Linked DNA regions of Homo sapiens: all the other regions are reported to be linked to region 3. Evidence: microRNA targets listed by miRTarBase, many of them from high-throughput screens and not tested one by one. Region 3 holds a microRNA gene; each other region holds the end of a gene's coding sequence.

Region 1 (7,791 bases), not on the chromosome of region 3:
GCCGGGCGCAGTGGCTCACACCTGTAATCCCAGCACTTCCCTGGGAGGCCAAGGCAGGCGGATCATCTGAGGTCAGGAGTTCGAGACCAGCCTGGCCAACATGGTGAAACCCCGTCTCTATCAAAAATACAAAAATTAGCCAGGCGTGGTGGCGGGTGTCTGTGGTCCCAGCTACTTGGGAGGCTGAGGCAGGAGAATCGCTTGAACCTAAGAGGTGGAGGTTGCAGTGAGCTGAGATTGCACCACTGCACTCCAGAGCAAGTCTCCATCTCAAAAAAAGAAAAAGAAAAAGAAAAAAAGGACGAGAAGGATCTCTGTGAAATGATAGATATATACCTGCTTATTGTTGTGGAAGGAAGGTAAAAAGAAAAGGAGGAAGGGAGAAGACAGGCAAGGAGGAGAAAACAGAGACTAAGGGTGGGAACAGATGGAGGAATGGGAATGGGAATATACCTTTTTGTAGAGTTTTGACTTTTGACCTAGGTGAAGTATTTACATAGTCAAAAAAAGAAAATAAAAATGATGGAAACAAACCTTTAATTGAATACAAACAGAATCAAGTCAACCTCATGCATATCAAATTCATAACATGGTTTCCAAGAGAAAATAATTCAAGTAACTTTTATTTCTTTTTTTTTTTTTTTGAAACAGGGTCTCACTCTGTCACTTCGTGTGCTGGAGTGCAGTGGCGTGGTCTTGGCTCACTGCAACCTCCGCCTCCCAGGTCCTGGTTCAAGCAATTCTCCTGCCTCAGCCTCCCTAGTAGCTGGGATTACAGGCATGTACCACCATGCCCGGCTAATTTTTGTATTTTTAGTAGAGACAGGGTTTCGCTATGTTGGCCAGGCTGGTCTTGAACTCCTGGCCTCAAGTGATCCGCCTGCCTCGGCCTCCCAGAGTGCTGGGATTACAGGCGTGAGCCACCGTGCCCAGCCTCAAGTAACTTTTGAATCCAGCACCCTGTGCACCCTTAGGGAATATACCCAAAGGTGGGGAAAGGGGCTGAAGGGAAATCCCAAACCTTACTTGGTGGGTTTGTTGTTGGCAGTGACATCAGTTTAAGAATTCGGAAACTACTGTTTCAGAATTTGGACATTGCGGTACAGAAGAAATCCGTAAGTGTATTGAAATTGTTGGGAATCAGGATGGTTTGAAAAAAGGAAAAATAGGGACTAATGTACAGATGAGGCCTGTGGTGCTGAATTGAAGCTGGAGGTTTCAGTATACTTGCAGGCTCTTCTAAAACATCTTAGCTCTGTTCACTGCAAGGGCCTAGAAGCAGGACACCCAGCAAAACCGGCACACCAAGTCCCTGGACCTTCATTGGGAAATAAAAATTCTCCACCACAAGAGACCAGGATCTGAATAAATGACTGATTCCACAGTTGGGGCAAGGAAAGTAAAAGGTCAGTCTGGAGCGCCTTGTGCCAGAAAGCAAGAATGTGCCCAAAGGCCGGGCACGGTGGCTCACGCCTGTAATCCCAGCACTTTGGGAGGCCGAGGTGGGCAGATCACCTGAGGTCAGGAGTTCAAGACCAGCCTGGCCAACATGGTGAAACCCCGTCTCTACTAAAAATATAAAAATTAGCCAGGCGTGGTGGCTTATGCCTGTAGTTCCAGCTACTCAGGAGGCTGAGGCACGAGAATCGCTTGAACCTGGGAGGTGGAGGTTGTAGTGAGCTGAGATCACGCCACTGCACTCCAGCCTGGGCAACAGAGTGAGACTCTGTCTCAAAAAAGTAAAAGAAAATAAAATGCTCAAAGAACCATGGGAATATGGCAAAAAGACACAAGAGCTGTCTTCTCCCTCTGAACAGTTTGAGCATCAAAAAAAATTATAACAGTAAGCGATTACAACACATTGAATTAAAAAAAAAAATCCATGGGCCTCCAGGAACACTCAAAAACTGAGTTGGAGGGAGGGAAAGACTTTCTTTACAGAAGAATGCCAGCCAGTAAACATCAAAGAAATATATGTTTTTTTTTTTTTTGAGATGGAGTCTCGCTCTGTCGCCCAGGCTGGAGTGCAGTGGCACGATCTCCGCTCACTGCAAGCTCCTCCCGGGTTCACGCCATTCTCCTGCCTCAGCCTCCTGAGTAGCTGGGACTACAGGCGCCCGCCACCACGCCCAGCTAATTTTTTGTATTTTTAGTAGAGACGGGGGTTTCACCGTACTAGCCAGGATGGTCTCGATCCCCTGACCTCGTGATTCGTCTGCCTCGGCCTCCCAAAGTGCTGGGATTACAGGCGTGAGCCACCGCGCCCGGCCAGAAATACAATTTTTTGAGACAGAGTTTCACTCTTGTTGCCCAGGCTGGAGTGCAATGGCTCAATCTCGGCTCACTGCAACCTCAACCAAATTGAGGTAAAACACTCAATTTGGACATCCACAGACTCCCCAAAGTCCTGGGCTATGAACCCTAATGTAGAAGAAGGAGCATAGAGCTTAGGTCACAGCACATAGGAGCAACAAGCCGAGGAGAGGAGGCTCTAATGAACAGAGGAGGGAAAGCAACAGCCAGAGAGGAGGGCAAGCCAGGAAGAGCCTCGGCAGCACAAATGCCACTCAGTCTGCAAACCAGATAAGGACGCTTGCACTGGGAGTGATTAAAACTCAGATCCCCGGCCGGGCGCAGTGGCTCATGCCTGTAATCCCAGCACTTTGGGAGGCCAAGGCAGGCGGATCACTTGAGGTCAGGAGTTCGAGACCAGCCTGACCAACATGGTGAAACCCCGTCTGTACTAAAAATACAAAAATTAGCCTGGCATGGTGGCGGGCGCCTGTACATCCAGCTACACAGGAGGCTGAGGCACGAGAATCGCTTGAACCTGGGAGGTGGAGGTTGCAGTGAGCCAAGATTGTGCCACTGCACTCCAGCCTGGGTGACAGAGTGAGACTCCGTCTCAAAAAAAACAAAAACAAACAAAAAATCAGAACCCTAAAGATCGATTTTATATCCACCTACGTGACAGTAAGAAAGCTGGATCAACTTCAGGAATGAAGGTGGACAGTCAAGACCTACGGTAACACTGTCTGGTGTCTCTCTGGTGCCACCACCCACATCACCTGCCTCTGGTTCAGGGCCCCTTCCCAGCTTGTCATCCCACCTACCTGGACCTTGTCCCTCCAGTGAAGGCTGCCCGGATGCCTCAGAGAGCACAGCCTTCTTAGCTTCATTCTTCCGGAGTGCTTTTCCTTATTTGGTGCTTTCTAGGGAGTAGGCAGGTCAGGTCTTAGGGATTTTTCTTTCTTTCTTTCTTTCTTTTTTGAGACAGGGTCTCACTCTATCTCCAGGCAGTGGCACAACCATCGCTCACTGATGCCTTGACCTCCCAGGCTCAAGCCATCCTCCCGCCTTGGCCTTCCAAGTAATGGGGACTACAAGCATGTGTCACTACACCTGGCTAATTTTAAAACTTTCTGTAGAGACAGAGTCTCACTCTGTTGCCCAGGCTGGTCTCAAACTCCAGAGCTCAAATATTTGTCCTGTCTCGGCCTCCCAAAGTGCTAGGACTACAGGCATGAGCCACCGCGCCCAGCCTAGGAATTTTTAAGGTGTTCTTTCAAAAGACTATGAGGGCTGTTTGGTATCAAAGCAAGTCCAAGAACCAAGAGATAAGAGATCAAAAGCTCTAAAAGCAAACCCAATCCAAGCTTTAAAAGTGAGAGAGATAAGATGGCTCAGAAATAATCATACTGGGTCCATTTATCAGGTGGTTGGGAGAGCACAGCTAACAGAGGGAGAAAAAATAAATCAAGTGGGCCACGTCCACAGGCGTAATCAACTCATCAGAATGAGTTGGTCACCTGTCACCAGCTAGAAAAACCCAAGCCAGAGTTGGTTCTGCTGGACTGGTAAGATGTCCCACCCCAAACTGACCAACTGAATCAGCATTTCTAGTCTTCTGTGCAATTGCCTGCAGTCGTATAGACCCGGTCATGATGGCAGAGAATAAAATCTTCTCTCACACCGGTCTCCAGTTACAGAGTTCTGATCACTGCAACCGGGAAAGCTGAGAACTCTTCATCATCTAGCACATTTGCGAAATTCATTGGCTTTAACAAACTGTTCCCCAAACACCTGGCCTGTGCGGTCTCCTCTCACCAGCATGTGCTCTGTCATATTCAGAAAGTGCTTATAGGCTCTCGCTTGCCTTGAAAAATATCCATCAGCTATCAGAAAAGCTAAAACCCATCGTGGCTCTGGTGAAACGTTCACTTCAGGGAAACACACAAGCCAATTTGGTCCGACTTAATAAGTTTAACAAAATCCAGGTGAAGGAATCTATCTGGAAAAACAGAAGACTCTTATGAGCAGCTCCAAGAAATAATTCTCTCGGGAAAGGGGAAAAAAGATGTGAATTCCTCCATACCAGGGTAGAAAGCAAGATGAAATTGGGTCTCACAAATGGGGAACATTCACGTAACCCCGACCTAAAACGGTGGTTTCCAAATATCTTAGGATTGTGAGACCTTCCTGGATTTTCTTCTCATGCTTTGTCTTAGAGGTAAAATCATGTTTGAAACTCACAAACTGTCTTATGATCTCTCACCCCCCACCCCCAACAAAGACCACAGACAAGAACATCATGGAACCAACTTTAAAAACTCGAGTCTGTCTCATTCTGAATGTGAGACATGAGGGACACCATTCCTAAAGTTTAAAAGAAATTGTTCTGCATTCTGGCAGGATCTGCTCTGTTTCATGCGCAGAGCGTACGGCCATGTCTGCAACTCGGGAGAGCTCCATTTAACGTGTGCGAGGACTCAGTAACATATAGCCATGCTTTTTACAGAGCCCTTGTGTTCCCAGATTGGCTTCAGGTTTGAAACCCTAACCTTCAGTTATGTGTCCTGTTAATAATAGGTCTCACCTCCCCAAGCGTACAAGAGACGAGAGAGCTAGCAAGGGAATGGTTTCCAGAGTGGGAGAATCCGAGAGAGAGGGCAAGACTGCAGCCTGGACCAACCAATCCATGGAGAATACTGCTCACCCACCTGCAGGCTCTGCCATGTTCCTCCTGACACCCCCAGGGATCTCCTGCCCACCCCCCAATATACCACCCAAGGGACACGTGGGACCCCACAAAGGCACACAGGCACTGGTGTTGAGAGCCGGCTGCATGAGGTGAAGACACAGATCCGCTCCTTAAAGGGAAGGTTTAGAAGTGCATGGCTAAAATCCAACCCAATTATACAATGATTCTTGGCTGAGAATAAGCTAATGGCTGGAGCTCTATAGAATCTCAAGATTTTTCTATGAAAGTCCTACCACCAAACAGCTGTGAAAATAAACCAACGTTCCTTGATGGGCTTCCTCCAAGTGCGGGACCACCCCAAACCCTGCTGTCTTGGGCCACTGTTTATCACAAACACTGCGGTCTACATCCAGAGGACGGATCTCAAGGGGAACTTTCTGTTGACGCTCCTTCCACAACATGGAGATGGGAGACAGGCACACTCAGAGATGATCAGAGATGACAGCAAATGCCATCTTCAGCTTTCCAGGCCAGTGATTTAAGTGCAGGAACAGGGGTGGAATGTAGTGGATATTCACTTGGAAGGTGTGCAAAGTCTCTTATTCACAGAACTCCCATCTCCTAAACAGAAATGACAAACCCCAAGCAAAATTCAACACATCTTTTTTATGTATAAATGGGTCAGTGGTACAGAGGGAGTTACTTTTTATAAATATCTGCAGCAAATCCCCTAAAAAAGATGTGAATAAAAACTCTCTCTCAGCACAAAGGGCCTATTCCTTCCCCAAAAGTGTTAAATTCCCGAGAGCCTGTGCTTAGCCAAACACTTGTGGGGCCTCCTGGGAAGAACAGGAGGACTTTGGGACCGAGAGGAGAGCCTTCCCATCTCCCCGGAGAGCGGAGGTGACTTGAAGGTCATCTGTTGCCCAGGACTTGGGAGTGATTAAACTGTTTCTTCCCAAGACTTGAGGTCTTCTTTGTCAAGCTGCTGATTAAGCGGTCTCTCTGTTTCCTGGCAGTGGCCCAGAGGGAGGGAGGAGAGGAACCTACAATCGCGTGAGGAAGTAAAAAACTCTGGGTATTTTGATAAAAAAAAACACTTGGTAATCACTGTAACCCTGTAAAGCCGATGTATCGAATTCACCAGAGGGAAAATTGTAGATTAGCATTCTGGAAGCTATAAACACAAGCATTTCTTTAGGAAGATCATTACTTAGCACCAATGTCTCTCTCTCTCTCATAATTTTTCCTTTTCCTCCAAGCCCTTGGCTGTGATCAGTGCTGTCGGACCACAGCTCAGCAGTACTTTTAATCAGTAACACAGCTGGGCTCGAAGGGGAGTGCCGTCACATGCCACAGAACAAACAGCGCGCTCACACCAAACGGCAAGGCTCCTGGGGGCATCCTGGCTGGGGAATCGCAAGCGGACCCCCGGCCTCTTCCTGGGGCTGCTCTTTGGCAATCCAGGCTCAGGGGCTTTACTCGAAGCGACGCAGGTGGTTGTACAGCGACTGGACGTAGGTGAAGACACACATGGGGTCCGGCTTGCGGCCCATCACCATCATGTCCTCCACTTCGATGAGGCGCTCACAGTTGGCCAGATTCCTGAAACACACAAGCCCCGTCAGAACGGTGGTCCCAGCCATCAGCCAGCCCCACAGCCGCGACAGGGCCGGTGTCTCGGTCCCGGGAACAGAGCTCAGCCGGCAGCCAGAGGTTCCCAAGGACCCACCAGCGGGGAATTCAGATAACCCTGGCAGAACCCTTGGAGTCACTGACTCCAATACAATGTTTCCCAAACTCCCAGATTTATGAGCCACCTGTACAATTCATGTTTTCATTTAAACAGACTTACTTTATTTAATTTGGGTTTTTTTTTTAGAGACAGGGGCTTGCTCTGTTGCCCAGGCATGAGTACAGAGGCACGATCCTAGCTTATTGCAGCCTCGATCTCCTAGGCCCAAGTGATCCTCACGCCTTGTCTTCCCAAGTAGCTGTGATTCCAGGCACACACCACCATGCCCAGCTAGTTGTTTGTTTTTTTGTTTTGTTTTTGAGACAGAGTTTTGCTCTTGTTGCCCAGGCTGGAGCGCAGTGGCACAATCTTGGCTCACTGCAACCTCTGCCTCCCGGGTTCGAGTGATTCTCCTGTCTCAGCCTCCCGAGTAGCTGGGATTACAGGTGTCTGCCACCACGCCTGGCTAATTTTTTTTTTGTATTTTTAGTAGAGACAAGGTTTCACCATGTTGGCCAGGCTGGTCTCGATCTCCTGACCTCAGGTGATCCACCTGCCTTGGCCTCCCAAAGTGCTGTGATTACAGGCGTGAGACACCACGCCCGGCCCAGCTAGTTTTTTAAAAATAGTTTTGTAGAGATGGGGTCTCACTATGTTACCCAGACTGGTCTTGAACGCCTGCCTCAAGCGATCTTCCCACCTCAGCCTCCTGAGTAGCTGTGATTACAGGCACAGGCGACCCACAGTACCTGGCATATTGTATTTAAATTTGAAGTGAAACTATATTTAAGTTAAAAAAAAAAAAAGTAGGCTGGATGTGGTGGCTCACACCTGTAATCCCAGCACTTTGGGAGGCCGAGGCAGGCGGGTCACCTGAGGTCAGGAGTTCGAGACCAGCCTGACCAATATGGTGAAACCTTGTCTCTACTAAAAATACAAAAATTAGCCGGGCGTGGTGGCGTGTGCCTGTAGTCCCAGCTACTCGGGAGGCTGAGGCAGGAGAATTGCTTGAACCCAGGAGGCAGAGGTTGCAGTGAGCCGAGATCGTGCGATTGCACTCCAGCCTGGGGGCAGA
Region 2 (7,791 bases), not on the chromosome of region 3:
GTGGAAGGCGGCGCGGGGAGGGCGGGGCACGGAGCCCTGTAGGAAAGCCCCGCCTTCTGCCTCCCGCGCCAGCCGCCAGGCCCGGAGGTCTGGCTGCAGACAGTCCACCGAGCTTCTGCTAAGGGGAGCATCTCCAGAGTACGCAACTGCTTGTAATTAGTCTTTTTCCCCCTCGCTAATCCTGTCTAGTCAAACCCAGCCTATGCGCCCAGTGCTGTTTAGCAGCTCCTTGAGCCGCTCTAATGGTTGAAAAACTAGCTTTTTAGAAACACGATCATCCACGGATAGGGACATGGTTGAATAAATCATAGGACAGCCATAGTTCGGAACATAATGCAACCATTAGAAAGAATGCCAGATCCAGGCAGGGCGCGGTGGCTCACGCCTGTAATCCCAGCACTTTGAGAGGCCGAGGCGGGCGGATCACGAGGTCAGGAGATCGAGACCATCCTGGCTAACACGGTGAAACCCCCTCTCTACTAAAAATACAAAAAATTAGCCGGGCGTGGTGGCGGGCGCCTGTAGTCCCAGCTACTCGGGAGGCTGAGGCAGGAGAATGGCGTGAACCCGGGAGGCGAAGCTTGCAGTGAGCCGAGATCGCGCCACTGCACTCCAGCCTGGGCGACAAAAGCGAGACTCCTTCTCAAAAAAGAAAGGAAAGGCAAGGAAAGAGAGAGAGAGAGAAAGAAGGAAGGAAGGAAGAAAGGAAAGAAGGAAGGAAAGAAGGAAAGAAAGAAAGGAAGAAAAGAAAAGAAAGCCAGATCTGGAGTTATTGGCATAGATGGATGATACATTGTTTTTAAAAAGCAACATGCAGGCAGGGCGCGGTGGCTCACACCTGTAATTCCAGCACTTTGGGAGGCCGAGGCGGGCGGATCACCTGAGGTCAGAAGTTCAAGACCAGCCTGGGCAACATGGTGAAACCCCATCTCTACTGAAAATACAAAAATTAGCCGGGCGTGGTGGTGCACACCTGTAATCCCAGCTACTCGGGAAGCTGAGGCACAAGAATCGCTTGAACCTGGGAGGCGGAGGTTGCAACGAGTCAAGATTGTGCCGCTGCATTCCAGCCTGGTGACAGGAGACTCCTTCTGAAAAAACAAAAACGACAACAAAAAAGCAACATGCAGGCCGGGCACATGGTGGCTCACGCCTGTAATTCCAGCATTTTGGGAGGCCGAGGCAGGCGGATCACAAGGTCAGGAGCTGGAGACCATCCTGACCAACATGGTGAAACCTGGTCTCCACTAAAAATACAAAAATTAGCTGGGTGTGGTGGTGGGCGCCTGTAGTCCCAGCTACATGGGAGGCTAAGGCAGGAGAATTGCTTGAACCCAGGAGGCGGAGGTTGCAGCGAGCTGAGGTTGCGTCACTGCACTCCAGCCTGGCAACAGAGTGAGACTCCATCTCAAAAAAAAAAAAAAAAAGAAAAAGAAAAAGAAAAAGCAACATGCAGATTGATTTTTAAATAATATCCAAAGCTTAAATAAAGCCTTATGTGCTTGTGGGAAGTGGAGAATAGTTAACACTGAACTGCAAACTGATTACCTGGTGGTGGGAGGAGATTCAAGGGGAAGAGTCACTGTGTTTCATTATTGATTTCAGCTAAATTACTAGTTTTAAAAAAGTAAACAGAAAATATTTGTATCTAATTACACACTATGTTCCAGTGTTCTGATCACTTTTTTTTTTTTGAGGTTAACATTGTAAACTCTTTGTGGGTAGTGATGGATTGAGGGCAAATGTTTTTTTGCTCCTGCAGCCAGTTCCTCTGTCCACACCGGAATCATGCACATTCACTGGGGGGAAGGGGGACTGGAAAGTGAAGCAGACAGGAAACCTGGAGGTTCACTTGGGTCTGGACCTCCTCTTTCTTGTGAGTATCCCAGCAAAAGCCTTTCCATGCAGTCTTGATGCTTTCACCAGCCATGAGCAAACAAAATAATCATTTAAGGTGTATCTTCCCTCAAAACAGCAGGCAGGCATTGTGTTTAAGTGCCATTTGCTTCCCAAGGAAGATTCAGTTTGCATGTCCCACCCAAAGGACTCTTTATGTGGCCAATTCTATTACGTGCATTAGTTTAAGCACACCTTTATCAGCAGTATCATCCATGGATCTGTAATTCTTAAGTAAAAGGAATGAAATGGTTTGTCAGATCTTGACTTTGAAGTCAGACCATTCCACAGGCTCAGATGCCCCTCTTGCTCTGTCGTCCAGATTGGAGTAGAGTGGCACAATCCCATGGCTCACTGCAGCCTCAACCTCCTGGCCTCAAGGGATCCTCCCACCTCAGCCTCCCAAGTAGCTGGGACTACAGGTGCATGCTCAGCTAATTTTTTTGTAAAGAGAAGGTCTCCCTATGTTGCCCAGGCTGGCCTTGAACTCCTGGCCTCAAGCAATTCTCCTTCCTCAGCCTCCCAAAGTGCTGGGATTACAGGTGTGAGCTACCGCAAGGTGGCTAATGCCTGTAATCCCAGCACTTTGGGAGGCCAAGGCAGGCAGATAACTTGAGATCAGGAGTTTGAGACCAGCCTGGCCAATATGGTGAAACCCTGTCTCTACTAAAAATACAAAAATTAGCCAGGCGTGGTGGCGGGCACCTGTAATTCCAGATACTTGGGAGGCTGAGGCAGGAGAATCGCTTGAACCCAGGAGGTGGAGGTTGCAGTGAGCCGAGATCATGCCATTGCACTTCAGCCTGGGCCACAGAGCGAGACTCCGTCTCAAAAAAAAATTGTTTTAATTTAAAAAATCTTTATATTAAAAAAAGAGAAAGAAAAAAGCACAACAGGATGACTACAGTCAATAATAATTTAATCGTACTTTTGAGACAGGGTCACTCCTGTCACCCAAGCTGGACTGCAATGGTGCCATCTCAGCTCACGGCAACCTCCGCCTCCTGGGCTCAAGTCCTTCATTCTCCTGCCTCAGCCTCTGGAGTAGCTGAGACCACAAGTGCACACCACCGCACCCAGCTTTTTTTTTTTTTTTTAAATAAAGACAGGGTTTCACCATGTTGCCAGGCTGGTCTCGAACTCCTGAGCGCAAGTGATCCTCCACCTGCCTCACCCTCCCAAAGTGCTGGGATTACAAGCGTGAACCACCCAACCCCAACATTAACTGTGCATTTCAGAATAACAAGAGTGTAACTGGATTGTTTGCAACTCAATGGATACACGCTTGAAGGGATGGATACCCCATTCTTCATGATGTGCTTATTTCACGTTGCACGCCTGTATCAAAACATCTCATGTACCCCATAAATATATATACCTCCTATATACCCACAAAAATTAAGAGAAAAACCACAGGTATTTCCCATTTTTAAAGCTAATGAGCCCTTTACAGAGGAACCATCACTTCTTTCCTACTTTGGGTGCCTAAGCAGCTTGCATTTCCATGCCCTGGGGCAGGAGAAGCAGAAAACTAAAATTATAATTGGTTACTATCAAATTTATTCATTCAAGAAGGAGTGAAAACAAAGCAATTTTACACCTTCATATTAGACACAATCTTGGAAAACAGGTTTTAATATGGATATAGGAGGATGTTGCTAAGTGCCATCATCGAATATGAATATTAAAATAGGAATGTGAATATTAAAATTAGATGTTACTCTGTAATTCCAGTGCTTTGGGAGGCTGAGGAGGTAAGATCGCTTCTGGCCAGTAGTCTGAGACCAGCCTGGACAACATAGCAAAACCTCGTCTGCACAAAAAATGAAAAAACATTAGCTGGGCATGGTGGTACTTTCCTGTGGTCCAAGCTACTTGGGAGGCTGAGATGCGAGGATCCCTTGTGCCCAGGAGTTTGAGGTTACAGTGAGCTATGATCTTGCCACTGTATCCAGCTTCAGTGATCGAGTGATACCTTGTCTCAAAACAACAATAACAACAAAGGAAGGGGCGGCGCGGGCCAGGTATGGTGGCTCCCTCCTGTAATCCCAGTACTTTGGGAGGCCGAGGCGGGTAGATCACCTGAGGTCAAGAGTTTGAGACCAGCCTGGCCAACATGGTGAAACCCCATCTCTACTAAAAATACAAAATTAGCCAGGTGTGGTGGCGCATGCCTGTAGTCCCAGCTACTCAGGAGGCTAAGACAGGAGAATTGCTTGAAACCGGGAGGTGGAGGCTGTAGTGAGCCGAGATTGTGCCACTGCACTCCAGCCTGGGAGAGACAGAGCGAGACTCCATCTCAAAACAAAACAAAACAAAACTTCTGGAATAGCATTACTGTCATGTATTGTAAAGTACAGAAGCTTCACTAAAGTCACTCATTTTGACTTCTACGTAGTTGTTGGAGCAATTACACTAGAGTCAAGAACCCCAGTTAAAAGTAAACTCAATTTAAAATAACTTGGAAATATCCTCCTCTTAACCCTACCAGGGTGTCTGCAAGTAAACCTGAAACTACAGTGCATAGGTATTAGAAATGAGTATCTTTCTAGACGTTCAAATTGAAAACCAACCTTCATGTACAATATACTCAAATTCCAGTGAAAGAGCTAATGGAAGACTAGGGGTTTTACTTGCCTTCTTCTTAGTATCATCTTTTTGTTCCCTTATTAAATTTGCTTTAAAACCAAGGGGGTAACATCCTGGTTTTTTTTTTTTTTTTGAGATGGAGTCGCACTCTGTGGCCCAGGCTGGAGTGCAGTGGCGCCATCTCAGCTCACTGCAAGCTCCGCCTCCCAGGTTCACGCCATTCTCCTGCCTCAGCCTCCCGAGTAGCTGGGACTATGGGTGCCCGCCACCACGCATGGCCAATTTTTTTGTATTTTTTTAGTAGAGACGGGGTTTCACCGTGTTAGCCAGGATGGTCTCGATCTCCTGACCTCGTGATCTGCCCGCCTTGGCCTCCCAAAGTGCTGGGATTAAATTTTTTTTTTTTTTAATGTTGAACTAGGATATTTAAACAATCCCAGTGCTTTCTATCAGAATGTGAGCTCTCTGACGGGTGAGCCATAGTCCTACGTTGTGCTCCTTTTCTGCAAGAGCAGAGGTCCAAGAACAGGGCTAAAGACCTCAGTGGGAATGACTGTTCTTCATCACATTCTGGATTCACAGCCAAACAGGGTAGCTGTGCTGTCAACACACTTAACAAGGCAACTGGTCTTAACTTCCGGAACTATATCCAGGAGCCAGGCCATTGATAAAACAGTTCTTTAAAAATTCTTGCCTTTGGTTCAAAGTAGGGAGAAAAGGATAACTTCAGGAAGTTTTTTATAGCTTAAAATATTGAGTCTCAGAAAGTTATATATATTCATCTCAGCAGTCTGAACGCTTAGATGATCAATCTGCAAGTAATTGGAAATGTACAAAGAAGAAAAATTGCTGGGAAGTTTGTCCTGGTCCACACACCACCACCAAAATGTGACACAATTTTTTTTTTTTTGAGATGGAGTCTCACTCTGTCGACCAGGCTGGAGTGAAGTGACGTGATCTCAGCTCGCTGCAACCTCTGCCCCCTGGGTTTCAAGTGATTCTCCTGCCTCAGCCTCCCAAGTAGCTGGGATTACAGGCACACGTCCGGCTAATTTTTGTATTTTTAGTAGAGACAGGGTTTCGCCATGTTGGCCAGGCTGGTCTGGAACTCCTGACTTCACGTGATCCATCTGCCTCGGCCTCCCAAAGTGCTGGGATTACGGGCGTGAGCCACAGTGCCCAGCCAAAATGCGACACTTCTTCCCTGTCTAGCAGTGCAAGATCTTAAAGTCAGATTATAAAACAAGTTGTATTCTCACTTTATCATTTTTCTCTGCAGTTCTAGGGCAGGTTTATCTGAATTACTTAAGTCCTTCATAGTATAGTGAGCATAAAAGAGGACACAAGCCAAATGTATACTTAAATTAAATAGCATGATTTAATTTAGTTGGTGCTTAACCCTGAATCCTCTTAAGTTAAAAAAAAAGTTATAATTAACTATTAACGTTAATGAATTTAAACCTTCCAGAAAGCATGAATCCAAAAGGAAATGTCCAACAGGTGATATGAACCAGATATTTTATGGCCTTTCCTGTTTCAGTCTCAAACTTTCTAAACATCAATGGGGAAAAAAAATTCTCTAGAGTTTTTCAGTTTTATTCTTCTAGAGCACAATTTTCCGGCCTGTTACTGAGTACGGTCTTCTAACAGGTACACAATTAACTCATAAGTAGACAACACAATGGCAGTATTTGGGATCTGCCGGATAAGCTGGGCAAACAGTCCTCTATAAAAGGCAAGGTAGCCTTCTTCCCGGAACACCAGGCGCGCCGTCTGGACAAAAGACTTGTACTTGGTGCCCTCTTCCCGGAGCCTCGTCCTTATGACTTCTGCAGAGAGAGAAAGACCTACTTTACGCCACATATTAAATGGGGAACGAATCCACAGCACACAACTTTAAAACTGTCAAGGTTAGGCCGGGTGCGGTGGCTCACACCTGTAATCCCAGAACTTTGGGAGGCCGAGGCGGGTGGATCACTTGAGGCCAGGAGTTGGAGACCAGCCTGGCCAACATGGTGAAACCCCGTCTCTACTGAAAAACAAAAATTAGCCAGGCAAGGTGGTGCACGCCTACTACTAGAGTGGCTGAGGAATGAGGATCGCTTGAACCTGGGAGGTGAAGGTCGCAATGAGTCGGGATCGTGCCACTACACTCCAGCCTGGGCCACGGAGCAAGCAAGACTCTGTCTCAAAAAATAAATAAATAAAATAAAATTGTCAAGGTTACAACTGTGTCTATTTCCCACCTCAGCTGTATTTGGACAGGAAAGTCACATAACCTAGAGAGACAATGAAAAATTAAGTTCTTTTTAGAACCTTTTCCAACTCTAGGATTTGGTCAACTATGGACACTTACACATACACGAAAGTACAAAATAACTTTTTTTTTTTTTTTTTTGAGGCAGAGTCTCACTCTATTACTCAGGCTGGAGTGCAGTCGGTACGATCTTGGCTCACTGCAACCTCTGCCTTCTGGGTTCAAGTGATTCTCCTGCCTCAGCCTCCTGAGTAGCTGGGATTACAGGCACCTGCCACCACACCCAGCTAATTTTTGTATTTTTAGTAGAGACGGGGTTTCGCCATGTTGGCCAGCCTGGTTTCGAACTCCTAATCTCAGGTGATGTGCCCATCTTGGCCTCCCAAAGTGCTGGGATTACAGCAAAATAACTTTTAAGGGGTTAAAAAAAGCTTAGTTTCAATGAGACTTAATGTTAAAATAATTCATGGTTTTCTACTCCCAATTAAGCAAATGCTAATTTGTATGAAGTATGGCAATACCTTCAACGAATTCTTTTCTTATATTTTTCAGTTTCCTCCTCCTCCTGGAAACGTTTTCTACTCTGCCCAGCTCAAAAGCCACCCTCTCCTTTGCCAGCCTTTGCCCACCTGGGCCTCCTTCCCAGACACCTAGAGTTGGACATTCGTCACTCCTGCCCTCACACAGACCTCAGACCCTGGGAGGCATCACTGACCTCTTTCCTCAGATGTCCTCTGGGGTCAGCTTAGTGCTCCAGGACACAAAGGGGACTCAGCACCTGTTACTGAGTTGACTGTATGCATTTGCCATAGCTGACAGTACAGAAGGCTTATGAAAATAAAACCTGTTTTTCATGGCACAATAAACTAAGCATTTTTTAAAATAAGTAGGCCAGTAGGTCAAGAATTCTATAACTCAAAAAAATAAACTTACCCAAAGTAGCCTTAAGGCTCCATTAGAAATAGAGGCTGAATGATTATTATTATTATTATTATTATTATTATTTTTTTTTTTTTGAGACAGAGTCTCGCTCTGTTGCCAGGGTGGAG
Region 3 (7,791 bases):
TCATGAAAAGGTGCACATAAAATCCACACCATAATCCAGGATGACAATTTCTAAACTCATACCTTGTGTTCAGCCATCTATTAAAACCTTGAGAATGATAATATTTGTTTTATATTTTAATTCTGTATCTAGTCCCAAATGAATCATCATTGACTACTCTCCCTCACCCAACATTATGTAAACATATAATAAATGGAGTTGTGGTTGTGGATAATCTTAGGAACAGACATTCAAATAAACAGGCATATAATTCTTATTTAAAAGTAAACTGGCCATCTATGCAAAATCCAAATACAATTTGTATCAGAAAAATTATAGGGTTGGGGTGTGTTTATATGATAAGAGAGAGAGGAGGGGGACCATTTTAGTCTATGTTTTCAAGGCTTTACACTTCACTCAACATAACTGCAGCTGAAACTTTAGTTTTTCTAAAGTCATGGTGGGGAATTCCTTACAGAAAGTCTCACAGCATCTTCTTTTGTGATTCACCTGTATCTCTGGTATTCTTTGTCATCTGATCATCTACTAGTCTAAATTAGGTTTCATTCAGCACACCTCCAAGGCTGTTCTGACAAACAGGCAGCTGCCACTACAGCATCTTCTTAAATGGCTCCATAAATGAAGTAAAGAGTATGGCTGTTCCAGTGGCCTGTTTTGGCTCAATGGTACAATCTTCCAGCTGGTGAATTCCCCAGTAAGTAAGCACTACAAGAACAATTTGTTTGATTGATGCAATGAAGCCTGAAAATTGCTATGGCACAAAGCTGCCTCCAGATTGGGAGGAAACTTTGGCTAGCACAGTCCCTTGAAGACATAAATGTTAAAGGCCATCTAACATTTTGTTTTGGCTAGGGCCCTCGAAAAGCTCAAAGTTACTTCAAATTATTAGTCAGGTCGGAAATGTTATATTCAATACATGTACGAGTCTTTAAAAGACCAATCATTCCTTTGTTTCAGTGAAATTATTTAAGTGATTTTAGGAGATAAAATTCAGAAAAGCGATCAGCTGAAAAAGGGAAGTTGTTACAAGAAAGATCATTTGCTCATTGATCTTCAAACACTAGTTTGCATGTGTGAGAGAGAGAGAGAGAGAGAGAAAAGGGAAATGAATTAATTTAAAAAATTAACTTAACAAAAAAATATTCCACAGATGGCTAGTTATAGAACACTTGGCAGTTAGAAAATGCCAAGAGGGTTTCCCACATAAGGCTGAGAAAAAAATGAGTTTATTTCTTTTTAAAAGAAGCAGTGGCAGAAGGACCAAGAAACAGAAGAAAAAAGATAGAGATGGAAAATCTGAACCTCCCTCTACCAATAGCCAACAATGGTCTGATTACAAGAATTTAGGAAACATACTACTTATTTTGGCTCAAAGAAGTCCAAAGGAAGTTCCCTTCTCATCCTTTTCCACCTTCCTCACCACTGCTCCATTCAATTTTATACCTATGTTGTTTTTAAACTCAGTATGCACTGACCTTAATACTCAAGGGTATGCTCGGTCCAATGAGCTCTCTGGAAGTGAGGGAACACAACCAAGATCTTTGTTTGTAGGAAAGGGGTTCTCAGTGACCTAGAGTTTGCTCCTTTAGTCCCTTCATAGTCTTCTACCCTGGAGAGTAGATTATATCCCAGTTTCCAGAGATCACCCCAAAACAAGATCCAGGTCTCACTTAAACCTAAGATTCCTCCACTCAAAACTAATTTGAAGGAACAAAGTGAGGCTGTCTGCTTCTCCTTGAACCTGTGAGGCCTTAGAATCTGTGTCAATTCTTCTTCAAGTATCATAGGGATTCCACGGCTACCTGGGGTTCAGCTCGAGCCAAGGCTCTAATGATCTCAATTTATTATTGATTTGACTGTGTAATTAAGTTACTTTAATCCTTGTGCACTGAACAACCAGTGTCCTTACTGCAAGTGTTCCTGACTGGATAGAGGAGATAGTAGGGGAGCTGTTTCCTGTGCCTTTTAAGCAGACACAGGCAAAATAATTTTGGAAGATTTTGTAAACACTTAGAATATGTGTATCTGCAATATATCTTTCTGGCTGGGCCTTTGGAAATATATCAAAAGCGTCTAGCGTACTTTAGTTAATGCCTAAGCATTAACTCTGAACACAGGGATAATATTAAAAGCATTTCATTCGTATTTATGAAAAACATGTAGATTTTTTGCAGTAGATTATATTTCAGTATTCTGTAAGTGCTTGTCAGATGAAGGCAGTTTAACTGAGATGTAGTGGCACTTAATTTTTGAAAAGAAAAGAGAAAGCCCCTACCCTCATGTAAAACTAGTGACAAAAGTGTGTGCCTGACCACTTTTTAAAAGAGCACAAGGATAAGACAGGGCAGCAAAAGGTGCTATTTTAAAGTAAAAAAGAATAGCAATCTGCTATAAAGAGAAAAAAAAGAAAGCAGGGAGCAATAATGCCATCAACTAAATTAGGGCTGACACAGGGCTGGGAGGTACATAATCATCTGTTTCTCAGATACTCAGATGAGAAGTGAAACCATTCCCAGTGTTTTCAAAAATTTTAACATGTATGCTATCACTAAGATGTTTTCATAGGGAGTTTTTGTCCTATGATTTAATTCCCTGGCATTTACATTGTATTTCTTCAATTGTCTACATTTTGAAATCAAAATGTTCAAATGCTGAATGATGGTAGTCTAGACTCTCTAAACTGTCCAACAAAAGACATGGATTTTCTTCTTCCTGAGAAAAGTCTGAGTTGCTATATTATCTCATAAGCCTCATCAATAAGGATCCAATATCTGAGAGTTTTTTCTACATATAATACACTGTGTATTTGCATTCCTGAAAAGAAAAAAATGTGTTTTTATTGTTAAAATCTAGCCATATTCAGTTGTCAGCTAATGAGGAAATTCATGAGAAAGCTACATTCTCCTAAGGTATGATCCAAAAAGTACGTATGACAATAATTGAATAAGAGGTGCTAGAAAGAAGCACTTAAAGAAAGTGAAGTTGGGACATGGCAAAGTGTACTGGAAAGAGTATTGGTTAGGAGTCACAAGACTTGCTTTCTAATTCCAAATTCCAATGTTGTCAATTATTTATTAGCTACGTGTCTTTTGGAAAACCACTTCATCTTTCTGGACATAAGTTTCCTTATCTATAAGGACAGAATAATAAGCCCTTCTCTATCTCACAAGGTGTAGCAGGGATCAAATGAGGAAATAAAGATGAAAATACTATAAATTTTAAAGTGTTAGATATAGGTCTATTTCAATTATCATATATGAACAGAATACAGAAACATATACAACTTATAAATAAAAGATCATTATTCCATTTCCTAACACTTTTTTAAGAATTCAAGTGCCTGATCTAGACATAAAGGTTGTACACATTTAGGTGTGAACAGTTCCTTGTTCCCAAAAACAAAAACAAATAAACAGAGAACAAACTAAATAGATTATTACTATTCAACCACTAAAATGTAGATTAAGAATAATATTTTAATATATAGAGGAATAGTCATAATAACGAGTAAACAGCAGGTTTGAAACATGGTATGCATAGTTATTCCAAATGTACATATATATCTTTATGTAATATATATGTATTTTATATATGTACACATATATGTGTATACATATATTATGCTATATCATATATTAGGTTATATATGTATATTATGTATTTATACATATATATAAAATACGTATATATTACATGAAGATATATATGTATATTTGGAATATATGTATACATATATAATATACATATATATTACATAAAAATGTATATTTGGAATATATGTATATATATAGAGAGAGAGAGAGAAAGAAAGACAAAGACAGAGAGAGAGAGATATACACGAATTCCAGCTAGCCACTACAAGGATCTATAACAGAACATTAATATTGGTTTTCTCTTGGTTGGGGGACTTTGTAGATACCTTTTTGTATTTTCCAATTTTTCTGCAAAGAACATATATTACATTGGTAAACAGAAAATAAACATACACAAAATAACTGTTCAGAAAGAAAAGCTCAATTAGAAACTTAACATTCTTACTGAACCTGACTATAAGAGAGTTACAAAGACATTTCAATAACTACTAAAGAGACTTATCAGGATTGAGTTTCTTCATAGAAGAGGATCAGTTGAATTTTCATGAAGCATTGGGGTGGTGGGGTAAGATTCCAGGTGAAATGGCTTTGAAGTTGAGTTCCAGTCAACATTTGCCATACGGTGGTAGTCTGTGCCCTCTGTATGGGAAACCCTGCCCTGCACTCCCTTCAGTAAGAATACAGATAGAGTGCAGACCAGGGTCTCCCAACAGCAGCTGATTCAACATTCCACTCCATATTTTCTGTCTTCTGTTGTGATTCTATGTGGGAAATGGATGGCTCGTTGAGTTACCTTTTCCTTTTGAGTTATTCCACTTCAGTGATGGACACTAACTGATGAGGGTAGACTGTGGCCTTGTGGATCAGTTCGTCCCCTGTAAACAGCTGTACTTTTGGACTTTACATAAATTTTTCTTAGTCTTAAAAAAAATGACAATTTAATATATGATAGGATTTCCATAGTCTTCCAAGAATTATAGGCTTATATATATTGGCCTGAAGGCAGCATGTTATTATATGGACTGTAACGGCAAATAATATGAAGCATTTGTTAACTTAATGAACTTAACACTGTAAAATGCTGTGCATGTATTATCATTCCATTTAATCCTCTTAAGAACCCTATGAGGTCTATACTACTATTACCTCCATTTTATAGATGAGGAAACTAAAGGACAGATGGATTAATAATTCCTTTGCCCCAAATCATAAACCTTATAAGCATTTGAATTGTGTTTCAAATCCATGTAATGTCAGAGCCCTCCCTCTTAACCACTACAGGCATTTTAAAGGCAGATATTATGTATCATTTATTATGATGCTGCAGCCTGCTTAAAATCAGGATAGCAAAAGGTTGTTGCCACAGGGTAAAAAGGGGAAGAAGTGGGGGAGGGTAGTGTGTTCTATTTCAGAGATAGAGACAATGACTCCATTGTTGGTTATTTTGAGTTTAAAGAGCCATTAGTGATAGGTTAATGTGCAGCAGCCATTTGTATATATAAGCCTGGCTCTCAAGATGAAAGGTGTCTGCATATGGATGGTAACTGAAACCACAAGAATACATTTAATAATCTAGAGAACACAAGCAGAATACAAGACAACTACTGAGGCTGGAAACTGGGGGTGGGGAGGACATCAAACATTTCAGAAAAGACGAGGGAAGTGTAAAAATTAAAAGAAAAATAGTGATGGTGTAGAACAGAGAAAAAGCAGTGTTGTGAAAGCCCACAGAAGAGATGGTTTCAATGAAAAAGTTGACCAACCTGGTCAAGTGCTGTAGAAAGGAGAAATAAGGTAAGGACTGAAGGGAGAAATGGATTTTAGTTGGCAGTCACTAGCGACATTAGCAGGAGGAGTTCATGGATGGCAATGTGGGCAGAAGATAGAATGCGGAGGGCTGAATAATTAAGAATTAGATGAGAAAATAAAAGCAAAGGTGAAGCTGAATAATTTAAAAATAGGCGAGAAAATGAAGAAAGCTCTTGCCTATCAAAGGAAAGAGACAGTCTGAAAGAGAAACTTAGGAGGGACTTTTTAGGATGAGAAGTCTTGAAATGATCTGTATGCCAGTGGAAAAAAGGTAGTAGTCCAGGAGGTAGTGAAGGTACAGGACAAAGGATAATTGATGTATCTAGGTCCCCATGGCTTTGGGAAGAGATAAAATAAATGGAAAAAGAAGAGGAACTTTTCTTTTGGGAGATGGTTGTTGAACTGAATGGCTTTTAAGGCCCTTCACAATACTGATGCAATTTCATAAAGGATGGAAAAATCCTACAGTTATTGTAGTGAGTTCTGGAAAACTAGACAGAGGATGTACTCCAGTGGTATCAGGCTGGCAATACATGGCACAAAACAATGTTACAAGGCTCCAGTGTACTTCAGACAACTACCAATAACCCCTGTGCCTGATGCTAAACCCAGACTTTTTTCAACAAATAACTGTCTCTTTTCCTTTCTTGTCTGGCTTCTTTTAAATGCTAAGTTTGAAATGTGATACCTTTGCATGAAAGCGGCATGCAGTCTACATGTCAGTTGATAAGAGTATACTGGAAATATTTCACTTTAATAATGTGGATAGGATCCTTCTGCCTCTCCCCTTCTCCCCTGGCCCCCACACCTTGTTCTTAATATCTCTGGATTCCATCTCTTCCCTAAAATACCTTTAGGATTTCTCCTATGTGCATAACAAATAACAGCATTATTTACATTTTAGCACTTCTTCTAAGACGTTTCCAGGTGCTAGATACAAGCTGTAGAAGAGCTTGCATTTTTTCCTTTAGATCTAAATAGTCTGAATCTCAGTATTGCTCATGGGAAACTGTTTCAAAGGCTGAAGTGTCAGAAGCAGAAAGGAAAGAAATGAGTGGGTGGGAAGTTCTACATGCAAACCTGTCACACTCTTCTTTCATTTTCAGACCTGAATATGCATGGATGCAGAAATTATAGCTTATTCCAAAGTTTTTATTGTCAGCATCAAATTTAACAAAAAAACGTCAAGAATATCAGATTGGTATATTTAGGTGAAAATGTTCAACAGACTTCATCTTTAACACAAATAGTCCTATCCGTTAATAAGCCCTTTAATTCCCTTTGAATACACTTCAAGAGAGGGCTCCAGGCAAAGTACACAGTAAAATCTCATTTATTCCAATTTCGCTACTTTGAAATTTACAATAATTTAAAAACAGAATAGGGAAGAAACTTGATTTTGTTTAGAGATCCCTTTATACGTATAGAACAAAATAATGACACTGAGAAAGAAACTTTAAAAATACTTGCAAGTCAAATTATAAAGATGATGCATGCATAAGAATGTTTACCATAACATTATTTTGTAACAGCAACAAAGAAAAAAATGCATCAGCAGAGGACTGGATGAGCAGATTATGGTACATACATACAACAGAATGTTATTCATCTTTTAAAACAATAATGTGGATGTACATTTATTGACATAGAAATACATGCACAAGATGTGCGTAAAAAAGCAAGTTACAGAACAGGTCATATAAAGTTATCTCATTTACATACAATCAAGTAGATATATGTGTATATATACACAGGGAGGCATACAGGTGATAGACACTGAAATATCTGTGTAGTGAGTTTGGGGTGATGTTTTATTTCTTTTTGTTTCAGTATAAAATAAAAACTAGAGATGAAAAAGTGCCTACGAACAAACTTTTCTGGAATACTCAACTTATATTTACATGTAAACAACTGAAACACTAATTATATATCATTTCATTAATTCAAGTCATCTGAGGACAAGAGTTAGCATAGTTTGAGTTAATCTAGAAAATTCATGTAATTATGTTTCCTTAAAAATCCTTTATAAGACTGACCTACTTCATAATTAATTTTTAGTTATAAGTGGATTTTGTGTGTGTTGTGTGCACTGGAAAAGTTTCAATGCTGTTCTTTAGCTATGACAAACACACATGACCATCACCATCGCCACCACCACCACCGCCATCATCATTTCCATTATTAATCTACATCATCATAAAGTATATTTAAAATATATTAAAATTGATTACATAACTCTTAGTGGAAATAAATGTATATTTCAAATACTCACAATGCTCCCTAGCAACAAATGTCAGCAAGTGATAAGGAATCAATAGTTGGACTATAGGAGTTCAATATAAATTAGGCTGAATTACGTCTCTGCTTCATATAGAGGGATACTCTTATC
Region 4 (7,791 bases), not on the chromosome of region 3:
GCAGAGGTTGCAGCGAGCTGAGATTGCGCCACTGCACTCCAGCCTGGGCATCGCAGGGAGACTCCATCTCAAAATAAATAAATAAAATAAAATAAAAATTTTTAAATAAAAATCATGAGTTAATACTGTAATTCTTATTCATAAAATTATTCTTATTTAGTTAAATAGTTACTACCTATTTGATTTTGTAATTCTGTTTTCTCTTACACTGAAAACCTTGATATCTAGCATCATATTTTCATTTTCTTATTTTTTTACCATAATATAAAGAAAATCATTTCAAAATGTCAGTAGCAATATTTTTAAAGACACTGATACCACTGAGTGATTTTTTTCTGTGAGTGTGGATATTAAGCAAGAGGGTGACAAGGATGGATACTTTTAAAAATCCCCCTTCCTGCTGTGTGGAGAATGGATTGGAACTAGGGTGGTGGCAATGCAGATAGAATGGGACCAATTCAGAATATATTGTCCTTTGGGGTCTGCCATTTAGCATTGGCTTTGATTTTATGCTCCGAATGGACCATCTCCCAGGCCCCTTCCCACCCTGCAATTCTAAGATGGCGTCCTCCTTGGCTCTGATAAGCACACACTGCATGTTGCTCATGGGTCTCCTGCTCTCCCTAGGATCTCATGGTCCGGAATGACACCCCCTGTGGAACCACCATTGGACCTATCTTGGCTTCTCGGCTGGGGCTGCGGGTGCTGGATTTAGGCAGCCCCCAACTGGCCATGCACTCTATCCGGGAGATGGCCTGCACCACAGGAGTCCTCCAGACCCTCACCCTCTTCAAGGTAACACCCACCCCAGACCCTCTCTGGCAGCTGGGCTGCTTCCCCTCTAGTGCCTGGATTGGTTGCTGGGACAACATCGCCATCACAAAGTGACTGGCCTGAGTAATGGGGGCTGGTTGTCATGCTGGGGCCATGTAGGAAAACAAGGGTCCTGGCCAACCACAGTGGCTCATGCTATAATGACAACACTTGGGGAGGTGGGAGGATTGCTTGAGGCCAGGAGTTTGAGACCAGCCTGAGCAACATGGCAAGTCCATGTCTCTACAAAAGAGAAAAAAGAGATAAAACAACGGTCCTTATTCTTCTCAAGGCTCAGGGGCCCTGACCCAAAGAAATGGAAAATGAGGGGATGGGAAGAGGGGATCAGGGCTGAGAAGACTGGGGTGGCTGTCAAGAACAGATGAAACCTCGGTGCTTCTCTTGCTGGAACATATGTTGGTGGGAGGTGGGTGGCAGGACATCTCCATCTGGTCACTCACTAATTCCAAACTCCATGTTGCCTCCCATTATAGGGCTTCTTTGAGCTGTTCCCTTCTCTAAGCCATAATCTCTTAGTGGATTGAGCCCTCTTGGAAAGACTTCTCTGCCATCCCTTTGCACCTGAGAGGGGAAGTTCTCAGCTGAGCTGAAGCTGGATTATTAAAGTGGATTGTCACTCAGACTCTCCGTGCTACGCTTATTTGGAGACTAGAGGAGTGGGAGTTGAGCCTGGCTTGAACCTTTGGAACCAGAAAAGTTGGGGAGCAGGTGGAGGAGGCCACACTCCTGGGAGCTGATGGTTTTAAATCTGGTTTTAAATCTCTTCTCTGTCTCAAGTCCATGTCTGAAGTGGGTGAAGGGTGGACTGGATCCTCAAGCAGAAGGTCACTTCTCCCACCCCTAGTCCTCCACCTGGGAAATGGCCTCAACGGTCTTCCCTCTTTCCATCCCCAGAATGGGTGTCCCGCTCTGCCTTCAGAGATCCTGTTCTGCACTGGGCCACCTTCAGAGCTGCTCTGGGCAGACAAAGCTGTTTCTCACCCTCCCAAAATCCCTTCCCATCCCCTCTCAGGAGCTGCAAAGAGAAGGGCACAGTCTATACCTTATCACCCTTCATCATCCACTTCTCAGCAGTCCCTGGTATTACTTGATTGTGAACATATTATCAGGAAAAAAGATTATCATTGAAAAAATTGGAAAAGTCAAAGTCTGGCCGGGTGCAGCGGCTCACATCTGTATTCCCAGCATTTTGGGAGGCCAAGGCAGGTGGATCACTTGAGGTCAGAGTTCAAGACCAGCCTTGCCAACATGGTGAAACCCATCTCTACTTAAAAAAAAATACAAAAAAATTAGCCAGGCATGGTGGCACACACCTGTAATCTCAGCTATTCAGGAGACTGAGGCAGGAGAATAGCTTGAACCAAGGAGGCGTAGGTTGCAGTGAGCTGAGATGGAGCCACCACACTCCAGCCTGGGCAACAGAGCAAGGCTCTGTCTCAGAGAAAAAAGGCCAGGCGTGATGGGTCATGCCTGTAGTCCCAGCACTTTAGGAGGCTGAGGTGGGCGGATCACCTGAGGTCGGGAGTTCAAGACCAGCCTGACCAACATGGAGAAACCCTGTCCCTGCTAAAAATACAAAATTAGCCGGGCGTGGTGGCACATGCCTGTAATCTCAGCCACTCCGGAGGCTGAGGCAGGAGAATCGCTTGAACCCAGGAGGCGGAGGTTGTGGTGAGCCAAGATCCTGCCATTGCACTCTAGCCTGGGCAACAAGGGTGAAACTCTCTCAAAAAAAAAAAAAGAAAAAGAAAAAGTCAAAGCCTGCTTATAAACCAACCTCCTTCCTTCCACTAAAATAATTGTGCAAACTGGTGTCCTTCCAATCTTTTTGATACCTATATAAAAGTTTATTTCCATATAAATATTCCACTTCAGCTTTCTAAAAAACTTAATATAATATAGAGATATTTCTATATCAATACATATAAATTTAATTTAGCAATGGCAAAAAGTTAGAATTCATCTAAAGATTTCTCAGTAAAGGCAAGCCCAAATACACTATGAAATGTCCATTATAGGTAGCTATTGAGAAAAAGATAAATTGTATAGTGTGTGTACTAACATGAAGAGATTACAAAGACATTGTTGAGTAGAAAAGGCAGGTTGCAGAACTGGACACAGGACAAGGAGTACCTTCAAAACATTATATGGCCAGGCACGGTGGCTTATGCCTGTAATCCCAGCACTTTGGGAGGCCGAGGTGGGCAGATCACTTGAGGTCAGGAGTTCAAAACCAGCCTGGCCAACATGGTGAAAACCTCTCTACTAAAAATACAAAAAAAATTAGCCATGCGTGGTGGTGGGTGCCTGTAATCCCAGCTACTCGGGAGGCTGAGGCAGGAGAATAGCTTGAGCCAGGGAGGCAGAGGCTGCAGTGAGCCAAGATTGAGCCACTGCACTCCAGCCTGGGCGACAGAGCCAGACTCCGTCTCAAAAAAAAAATTATTATATATTTTTATGTGTATATAAATATGCACGTAGATGTATACATGTATAGAAAAAGCCTGGAAAAATGCACCTGAAACTTTTACAGTGATCTTCTGGGTTGGGAGTGACAAAAGGGCCTTAGCCTTTTTGTAATGGTTTCCTTTTGTATAACAGAATGTACCATGTATTACTTATGTAAAAAATTTTACCCTCACACTGTATTTACTCTTACAATTGGCGTACAGTATTTTATTGTATAGATGGTCATTATTTATTCAGTCTGTTAATAATGGTCATTTAAGTTTTTCTCCAGTTGACAACTCTAAATAACATTGAGATAAATGTACATATATCATTGTACATTTGCCTTGGTTTTTCCCATGGGATAAATTCTAGAAAATGCCAGCTGAACTATAGTGACAGCAGACCAGTGGTTGCTTGAATGTCAAGGATTGAGAGAGAGTTTGGTTGCAAAAGGGTGCAAGAAAACTTTTAAGAGGGTGATAGAAATGTTACCCCAGAGGTGGAAGAAAATCCACATATAAATGGACCTGTGCAGTTCAAATTCATCCACTTACATGTGGATTTGTCCCAATAAAAGTTATACCGGCCAGGTGCGGTGGCTCACACCTGTAATCCCAGCACTTTGGGAGGCTGAGGTGGGCGGATCATGAGGTCAGGAATTCGAGACCAGCCTGGCCAACATGGTGAAACCCCATCTCTACTAAAAATACAAAATTTAGCAGGTTGTGGTGGTGGGCGCCTGTAATCCCAGCTACTTGGGAGGCTGAGGCAACAGAACTGCTTGAACCTGGGAGGCGGGGGTTGCAGTGAGCGGAGATCGCACCACTGCACTCCAGCCTGGGCAACAGAGCAAGACTCCGTCTTGGAAAAAAAAAAAAGTTATACCAAGTATGCCTGGCTCTCCTGAACCCCCACCCCTGCTACCCCCTATTCTACCTCCTCCGCCTCTTCTCCCACTGTTGCCCCAACCAACCCTTCTCTTCCTCCTCCTTGGCCTACTCAACATGAAGACGACAAAGATGAAGACTTTATGATGATCCACTTCCACTTAATGAATAGTAAATACATTCTCTCCCCCCCCCACCTTTTTTTTTTTTTTCAGACAGTGTCTTGCTCTGTTGCCCAGGCTAGAGTGCAGTAGCAAGATCTTGGCTTAGTGCAACCTTCACCTCCCAGGTTCAAGCGATCCTCCCACTCAGCCTCCTGAATAGCTGGGACTACAGGTGCCCACCACCATACCCAGCTAATTTTTTAATTTTTTAAAGAGACAGGGTCTCACTACATTTCCCAGGATGGTCTTAAACTCCTGGCCTAAGCATTCCTCCTGCCTCAGCATCCCAAAGTACTGGGATTACAGGCATAACATTTTCTTTTCTCTAGCTTATTTTATTGTAAGAATACAGTGTGTAATACATAGAATATACTTCATATGTGGTAATCTGTTTATGTCATCAGTAAAGCTTCTGGTCAACAGTAATTAAGTTTACAGGGAGTTAAAAGTTATACATGAAGGCTGGGTGCAGTGGCTCATGCCTGTAATCCCAGCACTTTGGGAGGCCGGGGTGGGCGTGTCACCTGAGGTTCGGAGTTTGAGACCAGCCTGACCAACATGGAGGAACCCTGTCTCTACTAAAAATACAAAATTAGCCGGGCATGGTGGCACATGCCTGTAATCCCAGCTACTCGGGAGGCTGAGGCAGAAGAATCACTTGAACCCGGGAGGCAGAGGTTGTGGTGAGACAAGATTGTGCCATTGCACTGCAGCCTGGGCAACAAAAGCGAAACTCCATCTCAAAAAAAAAAAAAATTGGGGTATTATTTCCATATAATAAATTATACACTTAAAGTGTAAAATTCTATGAATTTTGACAGATATACCATATACACCTGGGAAACCACCACCACAATCAAGATACAGAACCTTTCCATCATCCTCTTGTACCCCTTTGCAATCAATCTCTCTCTCCACTCCTGACGTCCAAGCAACCATTGATCTGCTTTCTGTCACTATAGATTAGTTTACCTTTTTTAGAATTTTCTTTTCTTCTTTTCCTTTTTTCTTCTGAGACAGACTCTCATTCTGTCACCCAGGCTGGAGTGCAGTGACGCCATCTCGGCTCACTGCAACTTCTGCCTCCTGGGTTCAAGCCATTCTCCTGCCTCAGCCTCCTGAGTAGTGGGGATTACAGGTGCGTGTCACCACGCCCAGCTTTTTTTTTTTGTATTTTAGTAGAGGCGGGGTTTCATCATGTTTGCCAGGCTGGTCTCAAACTCCTGACCTCAGGTGATCTGCCCACCTCAGCCTCCCAAAGTGCTGGGATTATAGGCGTGAGCCACCACGCCCAGCCCCTTTTATCTTCTCTTCCTCTTTCTCCTTTTTTTTTCCTCCTCCTCCTCCTTCTTTCTCTTGTATTTGTCCATTCTCCTTTTTCCTTAACTTAGTCTATTCTGTGTATTTTCTAAGTACCAGGATTCTTATTTGTTTGTTAATGCTAAGTGTGGTGGTGGTAAACCCTGCATGCTGTAGTATGACAGTTACTAGACTTTGACTGAGTGGTGGCTGTCCTTTGTAGGCCAGGGTTCACAGTAGGGAATGCTACCAGAGAACTGAGCTCCCTGATGTTAATGGTGATAGTAGGACTTCAGAGTAACAGTGGCCAGGTGGCAACATTTTACCATCATAGTTTGTGGTGTTTTCTGTCTCCTAATTATGCTGTAAGCATGGATTGTGTGTGTGTGTGTGTGTGTGTGTGTGTTGTTTGTTTGTTTTGAGACAGTGTCTTGGTCTGTTGCCCAGGCTGGAGTGCAGTGATGCAATCTTGGCTCACTGCGGCCTCAACTTCCCAGGCTCAAGTGATCCTCCTGCCTCAGTCCCCCTGAGCAGCTGGGACTACAGGCATGCGCCCCCACACCCAGCTAATTTTTTTTAATTTTTAGTAGAGACACGGTCTCACTATGTTGCCCAGACTGGTCTTGAACTCCTGGACTCAACCAATTCCCCCCACCTTGGCCTGGTATTACAGGTGTGAGCCACCATGCTCAGCAATTATGTGTATTCTTCCCCTTCTTTCTCTCTTCATTGACAAAATGATTTTAGGAGCGTGTCTAGAAAGGCTGGACTTATGCAGCTGCCGTTATCCTATGGGGACTGCAAATGTTACTTGTTAATGCAGTAAAATGTTGAAGGGGTTTGTAGAAGACACTGTTGGCAACTTACCTGTATCCGTCACTTTTACCATTTCAGTGTACACACTACCGTTTTCAGCTGCCAGCATCTGCACTTCTTGCCTGAGGGCTTTCTTTGCTGCTTGACTACAGTTTTCCACTCCCATGGCAGTTGGAAGTGCTGGGGAATTCAAGCTCCATCCCACAGCAGCTCTAAACAATAACTGGCAAGACTCTGTGTCTGAATACCACAGCTCCCTCCCATCTGGGGTGAGAGAACTCTGAGGCATGTAGTTTACACTGGCTCCCAGAGTCCCCCCAGCAGAATTCTGCTCCAGAGATAAGCCTGATAACACATGCCTCTATTGGCCACCTTCCCTTCCTTGTCTCCCTTTCCCACTCCCCAACCAATGTTTTCCTTCACCTCCCAGTAAATTCCTGTACACAGATCCTTGTCTCCGGGTCTGCTTCTGGGAAAACTGAAACTAAGTTAGAATTCTTCTGAGATTTTTAGATAAGGATGTCTGCTATTCTATTACGATTCAGCATTTTACTCTAGGTCTTTAGCTATGTACTAAAACAAGAAAAGGAATGAAAGAAAGGTGGAAAGGGAGGAATAAAACTTTCTTTTTATATTATTTGTTATGTAGAAAATCCAAAAGTTATACTATTTGAATTAATAAGTTATTTATTTATTTATTTTTGAGACCGAGACTCGCTCTGTCACCCAGGCTGGAGTGCAGTGGTGTGATCTTGGTTCACTTCAACCTCTGCCTCCAAGGTTCAAGCCATTCTCCTGCCTCAGTCTCCCGAGTAGCTGGGACTACAGGTGCACACCACCACACCCAGGTAATTTTTGTACTTTTAGTAGAGACAGGGTTTCACCATGCTGGCCAGGATGGTCTTGATCTCCTGGCCTCGTGATCGGCCTGCCTCGGCCTCCAAAAGTGCTGGGATTACAGGTGTAAGCCACTGCACCCGGCCGTAATGAGAGAGTTTATCAATACAGCTGGCTGAAAAATCAACATACAAATATCAATTTTATTTCTACATACCAATAAAAAATGGGTAGAAAACGAAATTTTTAAAAGGTTTACTTCTACAAGCATAAAAATCAAGTATCTGTCAATAAAGTTATGCAAGATCTCTACAGAGAAAATTTGTGTGTGTGTGTGTGTGTGTGTGTGTGTGTGTGTGTGTGTGTTTTTTGAGACAGAGTCTTGCTCTGTCACCCAGGCTGGAGTGCAATGGTGTGATCTTGGCTCACTGCAACCCTCGCCTCCCAGGTTCAAGTGATTCTCCTGCCTCAGCCTCCCAAATAGCTGGGATTACAGGCATGTG

What was found. The annotated mature microRNA hsa-miR-504-3p reads GGGAGUGCAGGGCAGGGUUUC and lies in region 3 at 4,241-4,261, opposite strand. An mRNA with a match to its seed (bases 2 to 7 or 8) in the 3' UTR can be bound and repressed. Matches are read on the target gene's strand: a 7mer-m8 pairs with bases 2 to 8, a 7mer-A1 pairs with bases 2 to 7 and ends in A, and an 8mer does both.
Region 1: miRTarBase lists SMTNL2 as a target of hsa-miR-504-3p. Seed matches in the 3' UTR shown: 7mer-m8 at 6,319-6,325.
Region 2: the mRNA of SLC25A33 is a reported target of hsa-miR-504-3p. Seed matches in the 3' UTR shown: 7mer-A1 at 5,425-5,431 and 8mer at 4,648-4,655.
Region 4: miRTarBase lists DNPEP as a target of hsa-miR-504-3p. Seed matches in the 3' UTR shown: 7mer-A1 at 2,237-2,243 and 8mer at 3,230-3,237.

What each region holds. Positions count from the first base shown.
Region 1 is chr17:4,606,156-4,613,946 of GRCh38, reverse strand. It overlaps SMTNL2 (smoothelin like 2), which reads right to left. Exons shown (of 8, transcript NM_001114974.2): 8 at 5,628-6,586. The coding sequence ends at 6,460. LINC01996 (long intergenic non-protein coding RNA 1996) reads right to left here and starts at 3,498. Exons shown (of 2, transcript NR_145431.1): 1 at 3,114-3,498.
Region 2 is chr1:9,580,822-9,588,612 of GRCh38, reverse strand. SLC25A33 (solute carrier family 25 member 33) reads right to left here. Exons shown (of 7, transcript NM_032315.3): 7 at 3,440-6,314. The coding sequence ends at 6,112. Among named protein-coding and RNA genes, the nearest start is that of TMEM201, 4.2 kb to the left of the region's middle. RefSeq lists a silencer at 1-106.
Region 3 is chrX:138,663,484-138,671,274 of GRCh38, forward strand. MIR504 (microRNA 504) reads right to left here and starts at 4,310; the gene lies at 4,228-4,310. All of the region lies in intron 3 of FGF13 (fibroblast growth factor 13), which reads right to left.
Region 4 is chr2:219,367,859-219,375,649 of GRCh38, reverse strand. DNPEP (aspartyl aminopeptidase) reads left to right here. Exons shown (of 15, transcript NM_012100.4): 14 at 628-795; 15 at 1,308-3,607. The coding sequence ends at 1,358. It overlaps LOC105373883 (a long non-coding RNA gene), which reads left to right and starts at 5,598. Exons shown (of 2, transcript XR_923917.3): 1 at 5,598-7,299.